Linked DNA regions of Homo sapiens: region 2 is linked to region 1. A link means that fine-mapping ties the variant in region 1 to the expression of a gene that starts in the linked region. Tissue or cell type: whole blood. Region 1 holds a variant in brackets; the other region holds the start of a gene. All regions are shown on one strand. Distances are between the middles of the regions.

What was found. PIP is the estimated chance that this variant, and not a neighbour inherited with it, causes the effect.
Region 2: it holds the start of PECR, and the variant in region 1 is fine-mapped to the expression of PECR in whole blood (INTERVAL, PIP above 0.99).

What each region holds. Positions count from the first base shown.
Region 1 is chr2:216,031,577-216,039,839 of GRCh38, reverse strand. PECR (peroxisomal trans-2-enoyl-CoA reductase) reads left to right here. Exons shown (of 8, transcript NM_018441.6): 8 at 480-1,452. The coding sequence ends at 565. It also overlaps a transcript of MREG not described here. Among named protein-coding and RNA genes, the nearest start is that of MREG, 22 kb to the right of the region's middle. RefSeq lists an enhancer at 7,356-7,585. The variant T/C (reference allele first, on the strand shown) is at 3,407.
Region 2 is chr2:216,077,686-216,085,685 of GRCh38, reverse strand. It overlaps PECR (peroxisomal trans-2-enoyl-CoA reductase), which reads left to right and starts at 3,877. Exons shown (of 8, transcript NM_018441.6): 1 at 3,877-4,068. The coding sequence starts at 3,945. It overlaps TMEM169 (transmembrane protein 169), which reads right to left and starts at 3,767. Exons shown (of 3, transcript NM_001142311.2): 1 at 3,707-3,767. RefSeq lists enhancers at 922-991, 4,116-4,165, 4,196-4,275 and a silencer at 3,666-3,925.

The DNA.
Region 1 (8,263 bases):
TGGTGCCAAGCTTCCCTGGCACCTTCTAGATCGTTAAATGGAAACAAGCTGTTGGAAAGAAGAGATGGGGACCTGGATGCTGGAGAGGCAAGTAGCAGTGCCTGGTACAAAGTAAGGACACTATTTTTAAATTGTGATTATTAAGGAGACACTATTTATTGACGATCCACAGTATGCGAAGCACTGCACACATGGTGTCATATTTAACCCTCACAACTTTAAAAGGTAGATATTGTTGTATCCTTTAATAGAGGAGGAAACTGAGGCTCAGGAAGAGACATGTGCCCAAATTCAGGAAAGCTAACGTGTGGCAGACCTGAGATTCAAATTGAAGTCTTTTCTCAAATGTTTGCCCTAAGGATTTATTTTTTGGTGCTGAGAAAATGTGTGAACCAGGGAAATTAACAAGAGGATTTGGTGGGAGTGAAGAGGGCAAATGAGATTTGCAAGTGACAGGAGGCTTTCCACTTCTTTAACAGATCATGACAACTGGCCCAAGGGAGCAGGGGACCTTTCTGTTGTCAAAAAGATGAAGGAGACCTTTAAGGAGAAAGCTAAGCTCTGAGCTGAGGAAACAAGGTGTCCTCCATCCCCCAGTGCCTTCACATCTTGAGGATATGCTTCTGTACTTTTTAAAAGCTTATAGTTGGTATGGAAAACATTTTTCTTATTTTTAAGTGTTATTAATTATATCTATGGAAAAACTATTCCTGAAATATATACAGTCTTATGTCCCAATCAGAGTCTTTTAACCTATGATTTAAAAATGTATAAGTAACAGAAATTAACATATTTTAATGACTTTACTTTTTATTTCTAAGAAAAGTATTTGAAAAATGGAATAATTTTAAATCAATGATAATTCTAGGGATCATGAACTCCCAGAAGATTTTATTATTTAATTGTAAAGGTAGAGGCCAGACGCAGTGGCTCACGCCTGTAATTCCAGCACTTTGGGAGGCCGAGGTAGGCGGGTCAGTTGAGGTCAGGAGTTCAAGACCAGGCTGGCCAACATGGTAAAACCCTGTCTCTACTGAAAAACAACAAAAACAAAAACACAAATTAGTCGGGTGTGGTGGCACACACCTGTAGTCCCAGGTACTTGGGAGGCTGAGGCAGGAGGATCGCTTGAACCCAGGAAGCAGAGGTTGCAGTGAGCTGAGATCATGCTACTGCAGTCCAGCCTGGGCTACAGAGTGAGACTGCATCTCAAAAAAAACCCAAAAAACAAAAACAAACAACAACAACAAAATTATAAAGGTAGAAAATAAACCTAAATTGTGTCGTAATTAAGATTATTAAAATTAGAATTATACAATGACTTATTTTTGGTGGCAAATACTTTAGGAGCAATAATGCCTTATGGTAATTATTGATGTATAGTTTCTTTTGTTTATGAAGTCAAATTTGTATAAATTCTCTTAATTCAAAGAAAAAGTTTTATGTGATTTATTTTTGGCAGTGCCTGATTTGTGTCTTGATTTTCTGTCCAAAGTATTCCCTTTTTTCCATGTATCTCCTTTTGTAGGCAAAAACAAAATTTCAGTTGCATGCAAATGTATTAGGGTTCCATATTCTGCCTTCCGTGGCTCCAGTCTGATAGTTAGACCCTTATTGAAGAAATGCCTTTAGCAGATTGAATATGTTCATTCTTTGTCTTAATCAAAGTTCTTTCAAGTATCTGAGGTGAAGTAGCTATTTTCTTTTTTTTATCATTAACACTCACTTTATTTATTTATTTATTTATTTATTTTTAAGATGGAGTCTCACTCTGTCACCCAGGCTGGAGTGCAGTAGCATAATCTCGGCTCACCACAACCTCCACCTCCTGGGTTCAAGTGATTCTGCTGCTTCAGCCTCCTGCGTAGCTGGGATGACAGGTGTGCACCACCACGCCCGGCCAATTTTTGTATTTTTAGTAGAGATGGTGTTTCACCATATTGGCCAGGCTGGTCTTGATCTCCTGACCTTAAGTGATCTGCCCGCTTTGGCCTCCCAAATTGCTGGGATTACAGGTGAGAGCCACCACGCCCGGCCTGTCATTTACCCTCATTTTAAAGTGTGTGAGTTACCAAGCTCTGGGGTTTGGGACCCAGAATCTGCAGCTTTCTCATGCTCCCAAGCAGGGCTAGCACGAGGGAGAGGCTAATGAGGTGCCCAGGGTGCAGCATTTAAGGAGCTATTCTCCATTGTCAGGTTTGTGCCAGTGCAGAATTGCCCCTGAGAGTGAGTGTGTCCTTCAATTTTGTGCTCATACTAATAATGTGGGAAGATCAGAAAGCTTCATTTTCCTCCCAGATAGCCCTTTAACAGTGGCCTTCTGGAACTGATAATATCATAACAACTGAGAATTACAAACCATGTTAGAGGGAAAAGTGGCCCTAATACAGGTTGGTGGAGAAGATGGAAAAGGCAGGGCTTGCTTTCACATGACCTGTGTTAATGACTGCCATCGACTCCTTAAATCTCCATAGCGTTGCCAGTTATTTCTGCTTAAGGGACAGAACCTGCCTATGTAGCACTAAACTTAGGTACAACTGCTTATTAGAGCTTCTTCTTAGACTATCACTGGACAGCTGGTCATTATCTATATTTTTAGAATTATGAATTTATTATCCAGGACTCTTATGTACATCATAATAGTATCCTGTCAATAATGTACTTTTGCAACTACGCTTAGTAAATTTTGTTGTAGAGTGACTGTTCTTGAATAGGCTTAATAATTTGGAGCACCTACTATGTATTTAGCATTATGCTAGGAGTCAGACATGCAATGGTGAAAAAATACACATGTATCTTGTCCTTACTGAGCTTACAGTAGGGAGAGATTGAGAGAAAGAGAGAGAACACGAGTGCTATAAAGGATAAGGCCATGATGTCCACGGCATATAACTGAAAGACAGGAAACAAAATGAAAATTCTATATTTATGTAAAAAGAGTTTGTTGATAAAGATGACCCTTGTGAACATTATACCTCCCCCACACTAATCTTATGCTTTGTGGCTTATGTTCAGGTCCTCTGAAAAGCAGGTGCCCAGACATAATGAGATTTGCATGACACTTATTGGGTACCAGGCCCATGAAGGATAAGGGCAGGGAGCCAGAGAAGGCAGCGATGGCCTTCAGACCATGCTGCAAGGCTGACCCCTGTAAAAGAGAGGGGAGAGAGGATTGGGCAGGAGGCATCTCAGATTGCAGCAAAGTGATGCTTTCTTAAGACAGGCTTGCTGAAAGTATGCATTGACATTTACAGTGGCCCACAGGAATACCAGCAGGCGCTCAGTGGGTCATGTGGATTCTCTACAGTGTAAAAGTAACTCTCTCTCCTCCTGCTGGTGCCTGGACAAAGGGAGTTCAGAGATCAGTTCCAGCATCAGTCATAGTTTGTAGCTCACTGGGACCTTA[T/C]GTCCCCTGGCAAGAGCCTCCCTCTTTGGCACCAGGATTTCCAGTGCTGCTATTCTCCTTAAATCCTGCAGCAGATCATTGGGAATGATGGAATGCAGGGCCACTCCCAGTTTCATCTACCGGATCCCAGACATGGTCCCAAACCTACTGGGGACATGCATCTTTGAAGACAGCAAGCACTCCATCCTGGCCCTTCAGCTGGGTCTTGGTTGTTCAAGCCCTCTATGAGGCTGGCTGCCTATGGATGGTGCGGGGTGTGGATACACAGTGGTTCCACAACCAGGGGCTCACTCTTTCGTCTCCTTCACTGGGAGGTGAGTCACCTGATTGGATGCTATGCCCCATGGGATTCCATGCCTATGGTTCAGGCTTTCTATAGCCCCCAGATAGTCATGGTGTCTGAGTCCCTGCAGGCAGGAAAGACAAACTCTTGCCTGGAAGAGGTATCTGTCACTATGAGGAGTGACGCAGAAACCACACAGCAATTTGAACAGGGCAAGTTAAAAGTGAAGAGTGATTATCACAGCAGATTGGAGTAGTGAAGGACTGGCTAGTAGGAAGTAAAAAGAACTTGAACATGAGAATAGCAGATATCAGGAGTAGCCTGCACCACTAGGACTAAGACTGAGAGCTCAAAGAAGAACCTTGGCTGGGCGCAGTGACTCATGCCTGGAATCCCGGCACTTTGGGAGGCTGAGGTGGGCAGATCATCTGAGATCAGGAGTTTGAGACCAGCCTGGCCAACATGGTGAAACCCCGTCTCTATGAAAAATACAAAAAATTAGCCGGCCTGGTGGCGGGCGTCTGTAGTCCCAGCTACTAGTGAAGCTAAGGCAGGAGAATCACTTGAACCTGAGGGCGGAGATTGCAGTGAGCCAAGATTGCACCATTGCACTCCAGCCTAGGTGACAGAGTAAGACCCTGTCTCGAAAAAAAAAAAAAAAAGAAGAGCCCTCCATAGCACCCCTGGGGCTGACACCCAGATTGAGTAGGGAGGGCATGGCTGTGAATCAGTGGAGGGCAGAGAAGTCACTGTGGTGCTCTGCTGGTGGAACTTGCTAGAAACCTGCCCTCTGGCATCCTGGGGAAAACTGTACAGAGAAGTGTCCTACCAGAGGCCTCTGATGCAAAACCCCCTGAGGGAGGTGCTGGGAAGCTGGTGCTCCTTAGCACTCCTGTGAAGCAGTCTGCACTGCACGGGTCAGGAAGCAAAACCCTCTTCCTCCTCCAATGTCTCTCCATCACCCTCTCCCAACAAAGCTTCAGAGCCCGCTGGCTCAGGGGAACAACTTAGAGGACCCAGATCCATTTTCTCAGAACAGAGGAGCAATTACATCTGGAGCCTGCCACTTGTCGACTGGCCGTCCTGTGGCCCATTGGTCTCCTTAAAGAGCAATGCCACTTCAGGGCTCAGCAATGATCTGTGTTGCAGGAAGGTTGGACATGCAGGGGCAGTGACAGCTCCGTTGACCTTGGTTAACAGGGAGTCCATGCTAATGGGCCGTCTACAGCCTGCCTCCATCACTGTGCCTGTCACACCAGTTCTGGGCTGGCCGGTGATGAAGTCCAGCTATCAACTGGCTGAGTTTTCTTGACTGCTTGGTTGTTCTACACCTCTTCCATGAGGATTGCATTCTGGGGACATTAACGTGGGAGGCGGAAATGACACTCCCCTGGAGCGCCCACTCCCCTGGGCTCATCCGTAATCCTCTACCCCAGACCTTGTTTCCTGGCCACTGTATATATTCTCATCTCGGGCCACTTTTCATTCCATTGTAGATACCAGTTGCACTCTCACACGCTGCCCATTAGAAAGATTTTCCATCTCCACCATCACGGGGCCACTCCTGAATAGAGCTATAATGAAGTTCTGACAACTGTGAAGGAGAGAGAGGAGGAAGGGAATTGGGTAGGAAAAAAAAATATCACAGACTGCAGTACAGTCCAAGAAAGAGAGGGCCAGGCAGATGGGAAGTCCTCAAGGCAAAGTCACCCATGGGAACCACCCTTGTCCCAAGGGAATAGCCTAGATGGACAGCAGGGCTGTGCTTGTCACAGGCCAGGAGCAGCCCGAGGGGAAGGCAGTGATGGATGGAGAGGGGCAGCAGCTGGGACCCACAGCCAATCAATTTTGTTTCCTGTAGCAGGAGGTCTAAGGGGTTTCTTTTCATGGCTGCCATTTGGCTATTCTGCAACTGTAAAACTTCACCATTGATCTCATTCATTTTTTAACATGACCTGGGGCTTGGCTCAAAGCAGTGCCACCTTGTGGTTAGTTTTGGAACACCAGCCTGTCTGGGCAGTGGCTTCTTAGGATGCAAGACCTGCTTGCAAAGCTTCAACTTGAGCTTTAGTTTCTTCCTTTGGTATTTCTTCTGCACTCCTTGTTTACAAGGATTTCATTTCAGCAAAGGAGCCATCTATTGAAATAAGATCAACCAGCGGGAAGATTCTAAACCATATTCAGGAAAGGTATGCTACGTCAAAACTAGCGATTACTGAGCCCATGTTTTAAGACAGCCAAATCTCTAGGCTATTTTGGATCTTATCCTGGACAACACTATTTCTGATTTGTATGGTAACCAAGGCCCTCTGTGGGTTAGTTTCAGCTTTCAAGCAGCCGTGGCTCAGTCTAGTGAGAGGCAGTCCTGCGTTCTGCCTGGTGGGAGTCAGAGTCTTAAGATTTGCCAAGTCCTGATGCCATCAGCATTCACATTGCCTTACAGAGGTCTCCTCCCCACTCCAAGATAGGTAGGCCCACCACCTGTTCTTGTCTGCAGCCTTCAGACTTGTTCTCCTTGAGGTCTTCAGTTCCGCAATAGGAAATATCTTGAAATCCCCTTCTTGACTGAGGCCACCCTTTGCTGAGGTTACTGACCTTTCTGCTTGCTGCTTCCTGGCATCCTGTTTCTCTCTGCTTATTTTGCCCTTTTCTGCCAGTTCCTTCAGGGCTCTTGTTGGATTCTCTCTTTCCATGAAGTACAGATTTTAGAGTGCACTGGAGTCCAACTGCTTGGGTTCGAATCCCAGCTTCTACCACTTACTCGCTCTTGTGAAGGCATTGAGACAGCGGAGGAATTTGTATGCAAAATTACTGGTCATTTTATTCAACGTGATAATGGCATGGCAGTTGTTATTATTTTTTATTTAAGAAATGTTGATTTCTAGGATTTACTTTAAAATATTCCAACTTAAAAAAATGGAGGAAGGGGGGTTGGTGAAATGAGATTGGCAACATGGTAATAATTGTCTAAGCTGGGTGGCAGATACATTATACATTATCTGTCTGCAGCTATATTATACATTATATGGTTAATTCTACTAGTCTCTCAATCTTGGGTAAGTTTAGAAGTTCCCCAACTAAAAGGTGTAAAGGTTTAAAATGTGTAAAATGAAAATGGCCTCATGAATTATGAATGAATTATTTGTATTCAAATAATTGTGGTTGGTTGTGGAACACCAGCCCGTCTGAGCAGTGCCTTCTTAGGATTCAAGACCTGGTTGCAAAGCTTCAACTTGAGCTTTAGTTTTTTGCTTTGGTATTTCTTCTGCACTCCTTGTTTACAAGGATTTCATTTCAGCAAAGAAGGCATCTATTGAAATAAGACCAACCAGCAGGAAGATTCTAAACCGTATTCAAGAAAGGTATGCTACATCAAAACTAGCAATTATTGAGCCCAAAATGAATTATTTGGATGGGGGTAACATGGGGAAGAGTGAGCTGACTACATATAAAATTTACTGGGGAGAAACAGGAGGGAGTTTGCACTGAGCCTCCTGTAGTTTATGGTGGTTCATGAGTGTGGCAGAGAGAGTGGAAGACCAGGTCCCAAATAGAATATATGTTTGATGGTGTAAAGCTATTGCCTTCTGACCTGGATTCTGCTCTGCAGGCCCTAGGAAGACCCCTGTACCCCTGGTCAGCCTCCCATGCTGGGTTAGCATTACCAGTTAGTCAGCTCTAGCATAAGCCAACTGGGTCAACGGAGGGTTGCAAGAAATGGACAATGTCATCCAATTATTCTATAGCATTGTTGTACCTGAGTTCATATGCTTTGAGTGGGGAAATTATATCCAGTTGGTAAATTTGGAAAAAAACTCAAACAAATCAGCAAAGTAAAAACAATATTCCTTGTTTCTCTTGCATATTTTGGACCATTTGGCTTTTGTTTTCATTTCTCTGGACTGAGTTACAAGTTTAGTCAGAGTTTGTAGTTCTAAGTATGACTCAACAGAGTCAGCTTTTTCAAATGCAAATGATTATCATGGACTTAAATAGCAAGGATTTGAAGAAAAAGAGTCATTTCTGTAAGTGATTCACAGTAGATGTAAGTTAGAATTTCTTACCCTGTAATTTTACCTTCTGCATGAAAAGCTGTCTATCAAAGGCTATTTTGTTAGATGTCTGGCTTCCTGTTCTCAGATGAACCAAGAAGAGAGGAACAGCCTATTTCTGGTTTTACTGAAGCCTTTTAAAAATCCTTGATGATTTAAGAAATACAAAAATACGGAGAAGTAGAGAGGTTCAATTAGAGTTTATAGTAAAAGATGAGGAGGAAGATAAAGTCCTCAGGTAGGTAAGACTTGCTGCGAGATTTAGCTGTGAGACATTGAATCTGGATTAGTTTCAATGGGATTGATTGTGAAGTGGAGGTAGGCTGGTATGGACATTAGGGGAATTGGGGTAAATGGATGCTTTTATCCAATTCTTTTCATTTCCCTTTCTTTCTTTCTTTCTTTCTCTTTCTTTCTTTCTTTCTTTCTTTCTTTCTTTCTTTCTTTCTTTTCTTCTTCCTTCCTTCCTTGTTCCTTTCTTTCTTTTCTTCCTTCTTTCCTTCTTTTCTTTCCTTCTTTCTT
Region 2 (8,000 bases), 46 kb before region 1:
TTGGTCAGGCTGGTCTCGAACTCCCAACCTCAGGTGATCCGCCCGCCTTGGCCTCCCAAAGTGCTGGGATTACAGGCGTGAGCCACTGCTCCCGGCCCAGATAATTCTTAAATTCATCCACCCAACTTTCCCATCTCCACTGCTTCCCCTCTGGTCTAGGAGGCCACTGTCTCTTAACTGTGGTTCTAAAAAAAATGCTCCTATCTTCCAGCTTCCACTCTTGCTGCCTTCCAATCAATTCCTCACTCAGCAGTAAGCAACATCTTTTACTTAATTTTTTTAATTTTTTGAGACAGAGTCTCACTCTGTCACCCAGGCTGGACTGCAGTGGCACAATCTCAGCTTCCTGCAACCCCCACCTCCCCCACCTGATTCTCCTACCGAGTAGATGAGATTACAGGCGTGTGCCACCACACCCGGCTAATTTTTGTATTTTTAGTAGAGATGGGGTTTCACCTCCCAAAGTGCTGGGATTCCAGGCATGAGCCACCCAGCCAGAAACATCTTTTTAAAACATAAAGAAAATCAGATGGTCAGGCGTGGCAGCGCGCACCTGTCGTCTCAGCTTCTCGGAAGGCTGAGGCAGGAGAATTGTTTGAACCTGGGAGGCAGAGGCTGCAGTGAGCCGAGATCGCTGCCACTGCACTCCAGCCTGGGATACAGAGCCAGACTCCATGTCAAATAAATAAATAAAAATAAAAAAGAAAATCAGGCTGTTTTCTGCTTAAAATCCTCCTGTAACTTCCTACTGTTATACATGTGGAAGTCCATGTGGCCTAAGGACCTCCCCATCCTGCCACCCCATCTGTACCACCATAGTAGGGGTACTATGCTCCAATCACACTGGCTGTGTATTTCTTCCTCAAGAGCACCAAATGCTTCCAAATGCTTGAGGTCTTCTTAACTGCTGTCTATCTTGCTGCTCTGCTGCTCCACCCCGCCTCTTCCTGTGCCCGTTTTTGTTTTTTTGAGTCCTTGTTCAAATGTTTCCTCCTCTGAGCCCTTCTTGACACCCGAACTAAAAACTTGACTCCCTGCTCTGCCTCTCATTATTCTTTATCACAACAGCTTGTTTCCTGTGTAAGGCTTACCAACATTTGTCATTATTTATTTTTCTTTTACTTATTTATTGCATAGCTCTTCTACTAGACTTCAAGCCCTATGAAGTGGTACCATAGAAGTAGGCCAACAAATAGATGCTCGATAAATCTTTTTAAGTGACTGGGTGAAGTGGTAGCAACTCAGGAGTAGCTTATTTTTTGTGAAAGCCTGAGACTAAGGAGAAGTTTAATAAAAAGACATCAATAAGCTCCTTTATATGCCTTGTTATGGCACAATTGCTAGGTAGTTTTGCTTCAAGGTAGGGGCAGGACCAGATGCTTCACTGACATTCTCTCAGCACTGAGATTCTGGGAGTCTAAATGTCGAGAATCCCACAAGCCCCTGTCAGTCTGAGCTAGCAGCTGCTTTGCAGAGGGGAGAAAATAAAGTTACCAGGCAGATGGGGTGGGGGAGGGGTGGGAAGCTGAAGGCAGTCATTGCTAATGGGGTATGACAGAGCTGTGGGGAGAGGTTCGGGGGTGTGGGAGGACCTTGGCCACAGGAATGCCTTTTTCCCCAGGACAAAGAGGGCAGTGACGCAGAGCACAGGGAAGAGCAGCATTTGATTCAACCAAAGGAGTGGTCAGTGCAGCATGGCGTGGTTGCCTTCGGAAGAGATGCCTCAACCAGAGGCAGAACTAAAATTTCAAAACAAAGAGCTTCCAAGCAGCAGATCTATTGCTCTGCTTCCAGGCCTTTTGGCCTGGAACTTAGCGGATTAGTGGACTTTCAAACCCTGACAGAGGTCAGAGGCAGAGGCAAAGAGATCATGCCTCCTAATTTTAAACAAAAGATCGCTTGAAGAGACCCCAAAGCTCTCTTAATTGCAGGTTCTGCCTGGATCATGAAAAATCGCCTTCTGACTGTTCATCCTGCAACTTCCTTGCAGCTGAGGAATGGCACCTTGTCATCCTCAGTAGGCATAACCGGTTTGCAGGCCCCAGTCCCTGTTTCACTGGAAGACATCAGAATCCCACTCTCAGTCCGCTCAGCAGCCACACGGAAGCTGCAGCACAGCCAGCTTCCCACTGACCCACCCTGGCACACCTCTAAGAATCTATAGGTCCAGACCAGGGCATAAATCATGTTAAGTTATATCTTCAATAAAGTTATCATTTAAAAGAATTTAAAGTGTCCCCACCCACAAGAAAGAAAGTCTGGACTTCTCTTGAATAAGATACCCCTCAGAACTGAATCAATATTTCTTTTCCTTAAAAAAAAACACCTTGTCATTGGGATCAAACCAAGAGGAGTTATATGTTTCTGCAACAACACTTTGAGCTTTCCTGTTTGAATTTACTTTGTTTTAAAGGAGGTGATGGCGTTGTAATTTTAAAAATTTGGTCCTAACTACAGAATTGACTTAAGTAGTAGAGTTAAGTGATTCCTGGATAAACTATCTAGCAAATGGTAACCAGGAGATTTATTCCTTTCTTTAACGAGTGTAGATTTGAATCTGTCAGCAACAAAGATAGAGGGAGAAGTGATTCTAAAAAGAGATCAGAGAAGGACAAGAGGATGGAGCAACAGGGAAGTGTAGCTGTCCAACAAGAACTGCAGCCTCGCTGGTGGGTGGGACCTGGTGGAGGAAGTGATGGTCTGATTCCTCTGTCAACCAGACCCATTTCCAATTGGCTTTGTGAATCCTAGGTGGTAGGTCCAACAAAAGGATGATGGCATTTATTTGCCTTTATATTATTTTAATACCTGTCCGGGGAAAATGCAACACTCTGACAACAGCCTTAGAAATAGCATCCCATCTGGATTGTTAAGACCACAGCAACTGGCACATTCGACCAAGTTCTTAGGGTGAAGTCTCAGTAGGCCAGTCCAGGTGTAATCTCACTCTGGTGGGTTCAGAGCGGGAAGCAAGATGAAAAATAAGGAGCAGATCTGAATAATAAATCACTGTTACTGGGCACCATAACACAGACGAGAAATTTTCCCCATCCTCAGCGGGCTCACCCTCCTGCACAAGGAATGAACTACAGGACATGATCTCAAACACCTACAGATGCATCTTGCAGGAAGCGTGCACCCTTCAAGGAAAGATCCTCTTCTGGACTCGCTATGCAGCTCAGCTGAAATGGATCAGGTCTCAAACCTGGTAAAGATGATCTTTCCCCTTGATTCTTGGGTGGGGAGTGGGAGGTGAGACGGAGGTGGGCCTGAGTTTATTTTTTCAAATCGTTTATTCTCTTGGTTCTGTGGAAAACTGCAACCGCATCTCCTCTTCCCCTTCACTCTCTTTCCCGGGCTCCCTCCCGAAGGATGAAAGGATCTGAAAGCCGCATTTCTCCCCCTCAGCTAAGCCTGCCCTTTCTCCCCTTCCCAGCCAGCGGCACACAGCACCTGGAGCCACAGCATCGCCGACGTCCGACCCCGGCAGGCGGGCGCAGCGAGGGCGCCGAGCAGCAGCCTTTCTTTTTCCAGCTGCACTGGAGATTTAATTTTAATTAATCGTGAGAGCTTCAGCCCTGAGGATTGAATTTTTGAAATAGAGCACACCCTGCTTGTTTCTTTCTTCTTCTTTTTTTTTTTTTGCATTTCCCTTCCACCCTCCCCAATGGCATCGAAATTTAAAGAAACGAACGAGCAGTCTCACCCACACCTGCCCAGGGACCGACGCTGGCGGAGGTTGCGGACAGCCGGCGGGGAGCGGTTCTGCTCCGGGAGGATGCGGCTTTGCCGCGGCCGGCGGGCGGGGCGGGGCCGGGCCGGGGAGGGTGCGGGGTTCTGGTGGTCACGTGGGCTCGAGCACCGCCCTGTCCGCCCGCCCGCCTCGAATGTCCCTGAGACCCAGAAGGGCCTGCGCTCAGCTGCTCTGGCACCCCGCTGCAGGGATGGCCTCCTGGGCTAAGGGCAGGAGCTACCTGGCGCCTGGTTTGCTGCAGGGCCAAGTGGCCATCGTCACCGGCGGGGCCACGGGCATCGGAAAAGCCATCGTGAAGGAGCTCCTGGAGCTGGGTACGTGAGCGGGCCGCTGGTGCAGAGAGGTGGCTGTGGTGACCTGGGGTAACCTGGAGACGGGAGCCAGGAGCTCTCGGCGGGGCTGAGGGAGTGTGGAGCTGCAGAGCAAAGACGGGGCAGGTGTGGGCGAAATTACGACCACCAGGGAGACAGAAGAGAGCAGCTCTTCCTAAGGAATTGTGGAGCCACTCGTTAAAAACTGAAGAGACCACTCAGGCCAAAGAGACTGTGCCCCAGGTAGGCAGTAAGAAGAGCAGTGAAACATGCTGTGCAATTAGTTTTATATTCAGATTTAAAATTAATCCATTCTATATGCTTAATGTGAGTGATTAGGAAACGTGGGAAGACTTCATTTAACTGGAAAAAGTTGTGAACATAGTGAGTCTCTCATAGTATCTTCTCACATCTCTTAACCACAGCAAGGAAATATGCTGAATATTTACCTTAACTTGGGTGAAGGAAGGCCTTTGTAAACACATAAGTGAGGGAATAAACCACAAAGGAGAACATAAATCAATCTACCTGTATGAAAGTGTAAATCCTCATTGAATTAAAAAAATATATAAAGTTTAAAGGCATATGAAGAAAAATATTTGCAACATAAGATAAATTGTTTGTTGGTTTTGAGATAGGGTCTCACTCTGTTGCCTACGCTGGTCTCGAACACCTGGGTTCAAGGGATCCTCCTGCCTTGCCTCTGAGTCCTAAAGTTTTGGGATTACAGGCTGAGCCACTAGATTCGGCCAACAGCCTTATACATAAAGAGCTCTTACAAATAAAGAAAAAATCCAACACACTGATAGAAAAATTAGACTAATGGTATGGACTAAGCGTTCCAAAAGAAGAACTACAGACAGGCAAGAAACATATGAAAAAATAATCAACTTTATTGGTAATAAAATATGAAACAGTAAGATTTAACTTTTCTAACAAAATTTTGAAATGTTGGGAAAAATTAAAGTGTTGATGCAGGAATGAGAAGGCAGGAATGTAAATTATTACAAACTTTCTGGAAGGCAATTTGGAAAAAAAGATCCAAAAACCTTCACAATGTTTATGCTCTATGACAGTAATTCCTTTTTCAGGAATTTAAGGAAACGGAGTCAAGCAAAGATTTTCATGCAAGGATGTAGTCTTGAGTAGTGAAAAAATGGAAATTACCTAAAAATCCAATATAAGGAAAATAGTTAAATCAATAACAATGAAATATAATGCTTCCGTTTAAATATCTTGCTATTGGTCCTGGCGCAGTGGCTCACGCCTGTAATTCCAGCACTTTGAGAGGCCGAGGCGGGCAGATAACCTGAGGTCAGGAGTTTGAGACCAGCCTGGCCAACATGGTGAAACTCCATTTCTACTAAAAATACAAACCAGGCATGGTGGCGTACACCTGTAGTCCCAGCTACTTGGGAGGTTGAGGCGCAAGAATCGCTTGAACCTGGGAGGCAGAGGTTGCAATGAGCTGACGTCAAGCCACTGCACTCCAGCCTGGGCAACAGAGCGAGATTCCATCTCAATAAATAAATAAATATCTTGCTATTGAAGACTTACTTGGAGAAATGCATACCATATTATTGGGAAAAGTAGAATTCTAAACCTAATAGCATTCCAATTTTACTTTTTTTTTTTTTTTGAGATGGAGTTTCGCTCTTGTTGCCCAGGCTGGAGTGCAGTGGCGCCATCTTGGCTCACTGCAACCTCCGCCTCCTGGGTTCAAGCGATTCTCCTGCCTCAGCCTCCCGAGTAGTTGGGATTACAGGCACGCACTACCTTGCTAGGCTAATTTTGTATTTTTAGTAGAGATGGGGTTTCTATATGTTGGTCAGGCTGGTCTCCAACTCCCGACCTCAGGTGATCCGCCCGCCTCGGCCTCCCAAAGTACTGGGATTACAGGCGTAAGCCACCGTGCCCGGCCCAATTTTACTTTTAATAAAATATATACATGCAGGGCCGGGCACGGTGGCTCATGCCTGTAATCCCAGCACTTTGGGAGGCCGAGGCGGGCAGAGCACAAGGTCAAGAGTTCGAGACTAGCCTGGGAAAACATGGTGAAACCTCGTCTCTACTAAGAATACAAAAATTAGCCAGGCATGGTGGCGTGTGCCTGTAATCCCAGCTACTCAGGAGGCTGAGGCAGGAGAATGGCGTGAACCCGGGAGGCAGAGGTTTCAGTGAGCCAAGATCGTGCCGCTGCACTCCAGCCTGGGCGACAGAGCAAGACTCAGTATCAAAAAAAAAAAAAAGTATTACATATGCAAAAATGGACTGGAAGGAAGTTTATAAGATTTTTAGCCATTTTTCTGAAAATAATGTTAATTATGAGTAATTAAAATTGTCTTCGTCTTTTAAATATTTTTTAATGAACATCTAAATTATCTTTGGTTACGACTGTGTTTCCAACATCTGGCACAGTATGAACTAAAAAAAAAAAATCTATGTTTTTAGTTAAAAAAAAAAAAAAAAGCAAAAACATTTCCTAGTAAGGCCATGATGTAACCTCATCACCATTACTGCCCAGTTTATTCTCAACACCAAGCTCTATCCTCTTTCAGGAATATCTGTAAGAAAATCAGAATCAGTTATCAATTCATGCATAGGTCAGATACTAGGCTTCTCAGCAGATTCGTAGGACCCTAGTCCACTTTGAAGGATTTTTAATAGATTTTTATGTATTTGAACTTTCATCCTGTTGCATAAGTGTGCTATTTGAACTTTCATCCTGTTGCATAAGTGTGCTATTTGAACTTTCATCCTGTTGCATAAATATGCATTGGCCAAAAACTACACCCCTGGAATAAGGTGATAGACTATATTTTTCTTACCACAAACTAAAACATTAGGACATTGGTCTTGTAATCTTTTGGAAGACATGAATCTGTCTGAGATTCTGATGAAAGTGGTGGCGTGTCTTTTGAGAAAAAGACATCATATACTTAAAAATATATATACACAATTATTTTGTTGTATTGGAAATGGATTTCCTTCAGTGAAAGAATATTAAAAATCTTTTTCTTTTTTTTTTTTTTTGAGATGGAGTTTCGCTCTGTCGCCCAGGCTGGAGTACAGTGGCGCAATCTCGGCTCACTGCAACCTCCACCTCCCAGGTTCAAGCAATTCTCTGCCTCAGCCTCCTGAGCAGTATTTTTAATAGAGACGGGGTTTTACCACGTTGGCCAGGCTGGTCTTGAACTCCTGACCTTATGATCCATCCCCCTTGACCTCCCAAAGTGCTGTGAGCCACCGGGCCTGGCCATAAAAATCATTTTTATAATTACTTTTTCCTCTTTATTTTTTTATGCCAGAATCAATGGCTATTTCCACGACATTGTCATATTTTTACTAGAGATGGGGTTTTGGCATGTTGGCCAGGCTGGTCTTGAACTCGGACCTCCAGTGATCTGCCCGCCTCAGCCTCCCTAAGTGCTAGGATTACAGGCATGGAGGCCCCGCGCCTAGCCTCCAGTTTTCTTTCTAGTCAGAAGGCCACTGTTTTTTGTTTTTGGTTTTGGTTTTTTGGTGTGAACTATGTCTTTTTGGCATGAACTTTGAGGCATGGTTTTTAAAATGATGATATTTTTGCTTTTTTTTTTTTTTAACGAAAAATACAGGTGTTTTCTTTTTTACTTCATACTATGCCAGATGGTAACCAAAGATAATTTAGATGTTCATTAAAAAATATTTAAAAGACGAAGACAATTTTAATTACTCATAATTAACATTATTTTCAGAAAAATGGCTAAAAATCTTACAAACTTCCTTCCAGTCCATTTTTGCATGTATAATCCATATTTTTTTTTTTTTTTTTTTTGAGACGGAGTCTTGCTCTGTAGCCCAGGCTGGAGTACAGTGGCACGATCTTGGCTCACTGCAACCTCTGCCTCCCAGGTTCAAGCGATTCTTCTGCCTCAGCCTCCTGAGTAGCTGGGATT